Linked DNA regions of Homo sapiens: region 2 is reported to be linked to region 1. Evidence: microRNA targets listed by miRTarBase, many of them from high-throughput screens and not tested one by one. Region 1 holds a microRNA gene; the other region holds the end of a gene's coding sequence.

Region 1 (3,127 bases):
TAGTCCACAATTGTACACAAATGGATAAATCTTAATCTTTAGGTCATAAAACACTGTCTTTGTGGTCCATTCTTGACATTCTTTCATTTCGTCACTTTTGTACTCATCTAATTCATTTTTGACTATGCAGCCACTACACTTGAAGTCACCATTTAGCCCAAGACCAGTGACTATTCTGTATACCTGTTGATACACTTCCTACCCTCAGCCTCAACAGCCTAGAACCTGGCTTTTGTTTTGGAATAACCTCACAGAAGCAGAGACTAGAAAGGTAGTTACTAGGGGTCAGGAGTGAGAGGAATCTGGAGATCTTAGTGAGAGGATGCAAACTTAGGAGTAAGATGCAGTTAGGAGTAAGTTCTGGTAACCCAATGCAGAGTACGGTGACTATAGTTAACAATAATGTATTTCATGCTTGAAATTTGCTAAAAGAGTAGACCTTAAGTATTCTCACTGCACACATGGAAAAACGGAACTACATGAGGTGATGGGTATGTTAATTCGCTTGATTATGGTAATCATTTCACAATATATATGTATATCAAAATGTCACACTGTACAATTTAAATACAATACAAATACATACAATACTGATTTATCAATTATATATTTATAAAGCTGGGGAGTGAGGAACACATTGCCATCATTGGTACATGCTTGGCTGTCTCTGGTTTTATTTACGCATTCATTCATTTTTAACTGTTCAATCAACACCCACAAAGCCGGCTTTTATTTGTCTGCACTCACCTTCTCTGGGAGAGAAACCCCAGTGTGCCCATTCTATGGAACATAAAGCCGGTTAAAAAAAGAAAATAGCCTACGAGGCCTTTTTTGTTTGTTAATATCAGGTTACCAGACCTGGATTAGTCATAATCCTTTGCCCAGAACACATTCTCAGAATTGTTCCATTCGAGGCCTTTATTACCTTATTTCTTTATTCCTTGATTATTTTTAATAACAAAATTAATAGCCACGAACCACTCTGATTTCTTTTTTTAATGCCCCTCAGTTGTGAAGAATTAATCACCATCCCTGGTTTACAACCCACTCCCGTCCTTGCTGCTGGCATGTCTCTCTCTTCTTGTATTGATTGTTAAAACCACCCACGAGAATTACCACTGGTGGTCCCCACCTCCATCCCTCCCCCTCTCATGCCCCTGCCTCCCTCTACCTTAAACAATCACTCCCAAATCTCCTGGATACAATCCCTTTCCAGATATATATATATATAAATTTACAACATATATGTAATATATGTATTCTTAAATATTTTCCATGGGTCAGTGGCTTGCAGGAGTTTTCAGTGAAGGCTAAAGAGAAGGGTCGAGGGAGAGTGTGAAATACACAAGCTTGAGTTCAGAGTACACCCACTGCTGGGGGGATTGGTAAAAGCCCTCAAACCCAGATCACTGAGCCATCTGCACCTGCGCACACACCACGAGCCAGTGGGCCCAGTGGTTGCAGCACATATGCTCACACCTCAGTACCCACCTCCCAAATCCAGCCTCAATGCCAGACGAGCTGGGTGACATCAGCAAAGCAAACTAACGTCTCTGTGCCTGTTTCCCCATCAGCAAGATAGTTGCAGTGGGGGGTCCCCAAGCAAAGTTATGTTATTATTTTCAAGCCAATGGCAACCAGGTTAAAAAAAAATACAAAAAAACCCTCCATCCCACCTCTGAGCCCCCTCCCTCACCCAAATCTTGGCTCCCTCTGCAGCAGCGCCCGAGCTCTGGTGTTAGACAGACAGACAGACCAGGTTCCACCCCAGCAGGCACTCGTGAGCTGTGTAACTGCAGAGACGTGACCTGGCTTCTCTGTCTTGTGCCCCGACTTGTACGGTTTGTAGAATGAGGAATGCAGCGCCCTCGTGGGTCCAACCGGAGGGTGACCTGAACTATCGCCCATCCCTCAAGTAGCCCGCCTTGCACACCTGCGCACACCCCACCCTTTCCCCGTCCCATGACGCCCAGCCCACTGCTCAAACAGTCCCCAGTTTGATCAAAGAAATGAATTAGTTCAATGCTCAGATCAAGCCAAGGGTTTGGGACTCGGGCAGGGAATTGTTCGGGCATGTTCTTTTTTGGACATGGCATCAGAGCTTAAACAAATACACTGAAAAACAGAAATCCAACTAAGGGATGTGCTTTGGAAAATGAAAATTCATTTTGTGAAGTGGGACTGCCCTTGGGGAAGTCTATGCAGTGAGATTCTTGATGTTCAACTTGATTCCAAGAAACCAAAAGAGGCTTCACTATGGGCCTTACCAAAGATACACAGCCAGTTTCCTTCTTACCCCTCCCCCCAGCTTGTCCTGGGTGTGTACCACCTGCCACAACTGGCCTCAGAGCAACTCAGGGACCTGAAAATAATTCTATATATTATATAGAGTTATGGTGTAGGTGTATAACGTCATTTACACATCAATCTGTCCATTGGGGGACTGTCATGAGGGAGTCGTGGGAAGACCACCAGTGTGGGGACCTGCCCCTGCCTTCTTCATACTGTGAGGCCTTGGAGAAGGCCTGTCCCCTCCCTGAGCCTCAGGTGGCGATCGTCCCACCAGCCTTTCCTCCCTCCTAAGTGGTGTGAAAATGAAAAGCATAACATTTTAAGTGCAAGTTCCCTCCAAGCAGCAGGGATCATTAATATTGTACCTCCTGTACCCAGCACGTAGTGTTCACAGCATGCCTCAGCATACATTATCTCGTTTGATTCTCACAACAGTCCTGTGAATTAGACATAATAATCATAATTAGCCAATATTTATTGAATGCATACTCTGTACCAAGCACCACACTGCCTACTTTGCATACATTGACACTCCTCTGGGGTGGATACAATTCAATAGTATCTCATAAATTTTTCCCCAAAATTTCTGAGCATGCACTTTGTATTGTTGCTGGGTCTAAGTGCCAGGGATACAGTAGTGAGCAAAACGGACAGATCCCGGTTCCATGAGAATTAACATCCCTGTGGGTGGAGATAGGAACAGAAAATCATCAGAAAAGGTAAGCCTAATGCATGGGATAAAAGATGGTGGTAAGAACTAGGGAGGAAAATAAAGCAGGAAGGGGGTAGGGAGTGACACCAGGGAGGAGGCCTCACGGAGATGATGATATTTGAG
Region 2 (3,076 bases), not on the chromosome of region 1:
AGTAAGGCTAAAGTCCTTTTTCCTTCACCCCTACCCTCTCCTCTTTTGCATCTAGAGATTTGGAAAATTGCTAGAACCATGAATTATTAGGTATGATGTTTTATTTTATTAGGTTGGAATGAAATACAGAAACCTAATCCTGAAACCTGGGGGATCTCTGGACGGCATGGACATGCTCCACAATTTCTTGAAACGTGAGCCAAACCAAAAAGCGTTCCTAATGAGTAGAGGCCTGCATGCTCCGTGAACTGGGGATCTTTGGTAGCCGTCCATGTCTGGAGGACAAGTCGACATCACCATGTGTTACTGGCCTGGAAACTGAAGGGAGTTTTGCAAGTGAAAATTTAGATTTCTATTGACATCCTTTTGTTTTCTAATTTTAAAAATTATAAAGATGTAAATGGAATTATAAATACTGTGACCTAAGAAAAGACCCACTAGAAAGTAATTGTACTATAAAATTTCATAAAACTGGATTTGATTTCTTTTTATGAAAGTTTCATATGAATGTAACTTGATTTTTTACTATTATAATCTAGATAATATGATATAAGAGGGCTAAGAATTTTTAAATTGAATCATATATATGATATAATTTGATCCTTCTTGTATCTTGAAGTTTTGTACTTGGGATTTCTGGACTGATAAATGAATCATCACATTCTTCTGGTAAATATTTTCTTGGAGCTCTGTGTCAACTTTGATCCTTTGTCTCCCAGGAAGGTGTGACCTCTCCTTTGCCTGCATACCTCAAGGCCAGGGGAATATGCCTCAGTGATGCATTTATCTTTGTATATCAGGCCGCATGATTCCCAACTTTCTGCCACACTTAAATTACGTTCCTCCATTTCAGTTTTGTCTTTTCTGTCTAAAGTTCAGTCAAAGAGTATCAAAAAATTATGTTTCAGCTAGACTGGTGTAATGTATAAGTTTTTGTATCTTGTATTAGAGGATTTCGTAGCTTTTATTAGAGGCTCATTTCCACCTCAGCATACAAGATCGTTAGTCTTTTGGCATGTGTGCCAATTAGAATACTAAAGCAAGTCCAAGCACATTTTTCTCTTCTCACGTTTCTAATAAGTGTTAGGGACTTTGCCTCTTTTACTTACCACGTCCCCAAAAGTGTCAGGTAGACATGTCACAAATGGCTCTGTAGAGAGCCATGGGAAGAGAGAGGAGGTGGATGTGGAACATAAAGGGTTCAGAAACTCCAGAAGAGGAGTGGGTTTTGGATAGAAGCATTTGAGGACAGCTGCTCCAAAGCCTTATGTGTATGATGAAACTTAACCACGGGGAAGAGACTCTTCAGTAGCCTGTTCTGTCTGGTGATTTTTATTTTAAGTGAACCTTTGGATCTATCTTTAACTCTCTTTATTGTGAGTCTAAATTCCAATTCTGCAGCAGATCAGTAAACTCACAGTATTTTTCCTGTGGAAATCTATTCAATAAGGAAACCAAGACAGGATAATAAAATTTAAAAAAAAAACAACTTTGAATTCCCCTGCCTAGGTCTTCCAGTTGTTTTCCAGCGCATACCTCAGGTATGACTTTGCTAGCCGGGGACAAAATTAGCACCTTCCGATTCTCTAGTCCAAATGAACTTTGTGCTAAATAAAAAATTATTATACTACATAATAAAGTTACAGATAGCAGGAAATGCAAGAGCTAGGAGATTCCTAGATTATATCTGCCAAGCAAATACCTTAAACATCCACCTGAAATCCTACTACCCCCTCTTCTGAGATAATTTGCCCAGCCCTTCTCTTCCCACACACTCACTCAATGTCACCCCCTTCTAATCCCCAAAACTGTTTTTGTGGTCTTTGTAGCCTATAGTAGTTTTCTCACATCTTTCCCCCTAGACTTTTCTGTTTTTCAGTTTCAGACAAAAAAACTCTTCAGCTTTTTCCAGTGTGTCTCCTTAACAGTAACTTTACCACTTGAAATCTTATTTCATAGAAAAACTAAATTGGTGTGGAAAGGCTGCACACAATAAAGTTATATTATTATCCATGAAAATGAACTCATATTTCTTTCATACTTTAACGTTAAAACCGAAATGCATGAGAGCAAAAGCACCATGGTGTTCTTTCTATTTAGGGCCTACCTCTAATATTTAAAATCTACCAAAGAGCAGTCACAAAATTAAAACTCAGCCCGGGCGCAGTGGCTCATGCCTGTAATCCCAGCACTTTGGGAGGCCAAGGCAGGAGGATCACCTGAGGTCAGAGTTCAAGACCAGCATGGTCAACATGGTGAAACCCTGTCTCTACAAAAATACAAAAAGCTGGGCATGATGTTGGGTTCCTGTAGTCCCAGCTACTTAGGAGGCTGAGGCAGGAGAATAGCTTGAACCCGGGAGGTGGAGGTTGCAGTGAGCTGAGATCATGCCATTGCACTCCAGCCTGGACGACAGAGTGAGATTCAGTCTCAAAAAAAATTAATACTCAAAGAATTATCTAGCATAATTTAAAAGAAAGGACTTTTTAAAAATTCTCTAGCATAATTCAAAAGAAAGGACTTAACTTTTTTTTTTTTAGTGTGGTCATCCGTCTAGTTGTTCTTTTTTTCCAGATCAGAGCAGAGAATATCACTGACATGCTTGAAATGGTGGATAACTATGTAAATTGTAATTGGACAAATGTACACTTTAGATTTATGGACTGAGCCACATATAATAAGGTCTCTCCTGGTAATTGATCCAGGGGATTTAGGCCTCTTTCGGGTTTTTTGTTTTTTTTTTAGGCATTGTTATGTTGTGAAGGATAAAATCTTCAACATCTTATGCAAATGGATAGTAGGCATGATCCTAAAGGTTTAGTTTTACGATGCTGCAGAGAAGAGAAATGTCTTGACGTTTTGCCACCTGATGTAGACTTTGTCCCCCTCTAGTATAAATGTTGCATGTTACCTAGATAAACAACTAAAAATTGCCTTGAGTTATCACCTGAGCTACTTATGCCAAGGTCTTGCCTTTCTAAAGCTAATAAGGTGAGAGGTGGATATCTGTAGCTCTTCGGATGAAAAATTGCATTGTGGGAGATACCAAAATTGAGGAAATAGCTCTTCAAAGAAA

The links. The annotated mature microRNA hsa-miR-370-5p reads CAGGUCACGUCUCUGCAGUUAC and lies in region 1 at 1,790-1,811, opposite strand. An mRNA with a match to its seed (bases 2 to 7 or 8) in the 3' UTR can be bound and repressed. Matches are read on the target gene's strand: a 7mer-m8 pairs with bases 2 to 8, a 7mer-A1 pairs with bases 2 to 7 and ends in A, and an 8mer does both.
Region 2: miRTarBase lists NLN as a target of hsa-miR-370-5p. Seed matches in the 3' UTR shown: 8mer at 418-425 and 7mer-m8 at 726-732.

What each region holds. Positions count from the first base shown.
Region 1 is chr14:100,909,835-100,912,961 of GRCh38, reverse strand. It overlaps MIR370 (microRNA 370), which reads right to left and starts at 1,823; the gene lies at 1,749-1,823. It overlaps MEG8 (maternally expressed 8, small nucleolar RNA host gene), which reads right to left. Exons shown (of 51, transcript NR_146000.1): 8 at 2,658-2,729.
Region 2 is chr5:65,822,669-65,825,744 of GRCh38, forward strand. It overlaps NLN (neurolysin), which reads left to right. Exons shown (of 13, transcript NM_020726.5): 13 at 113-3,076. The coding sequence ends at 247. Among named protein-coding and RNA genes, the nearest start is that of NLN, 100 kb to the left of the region's middle.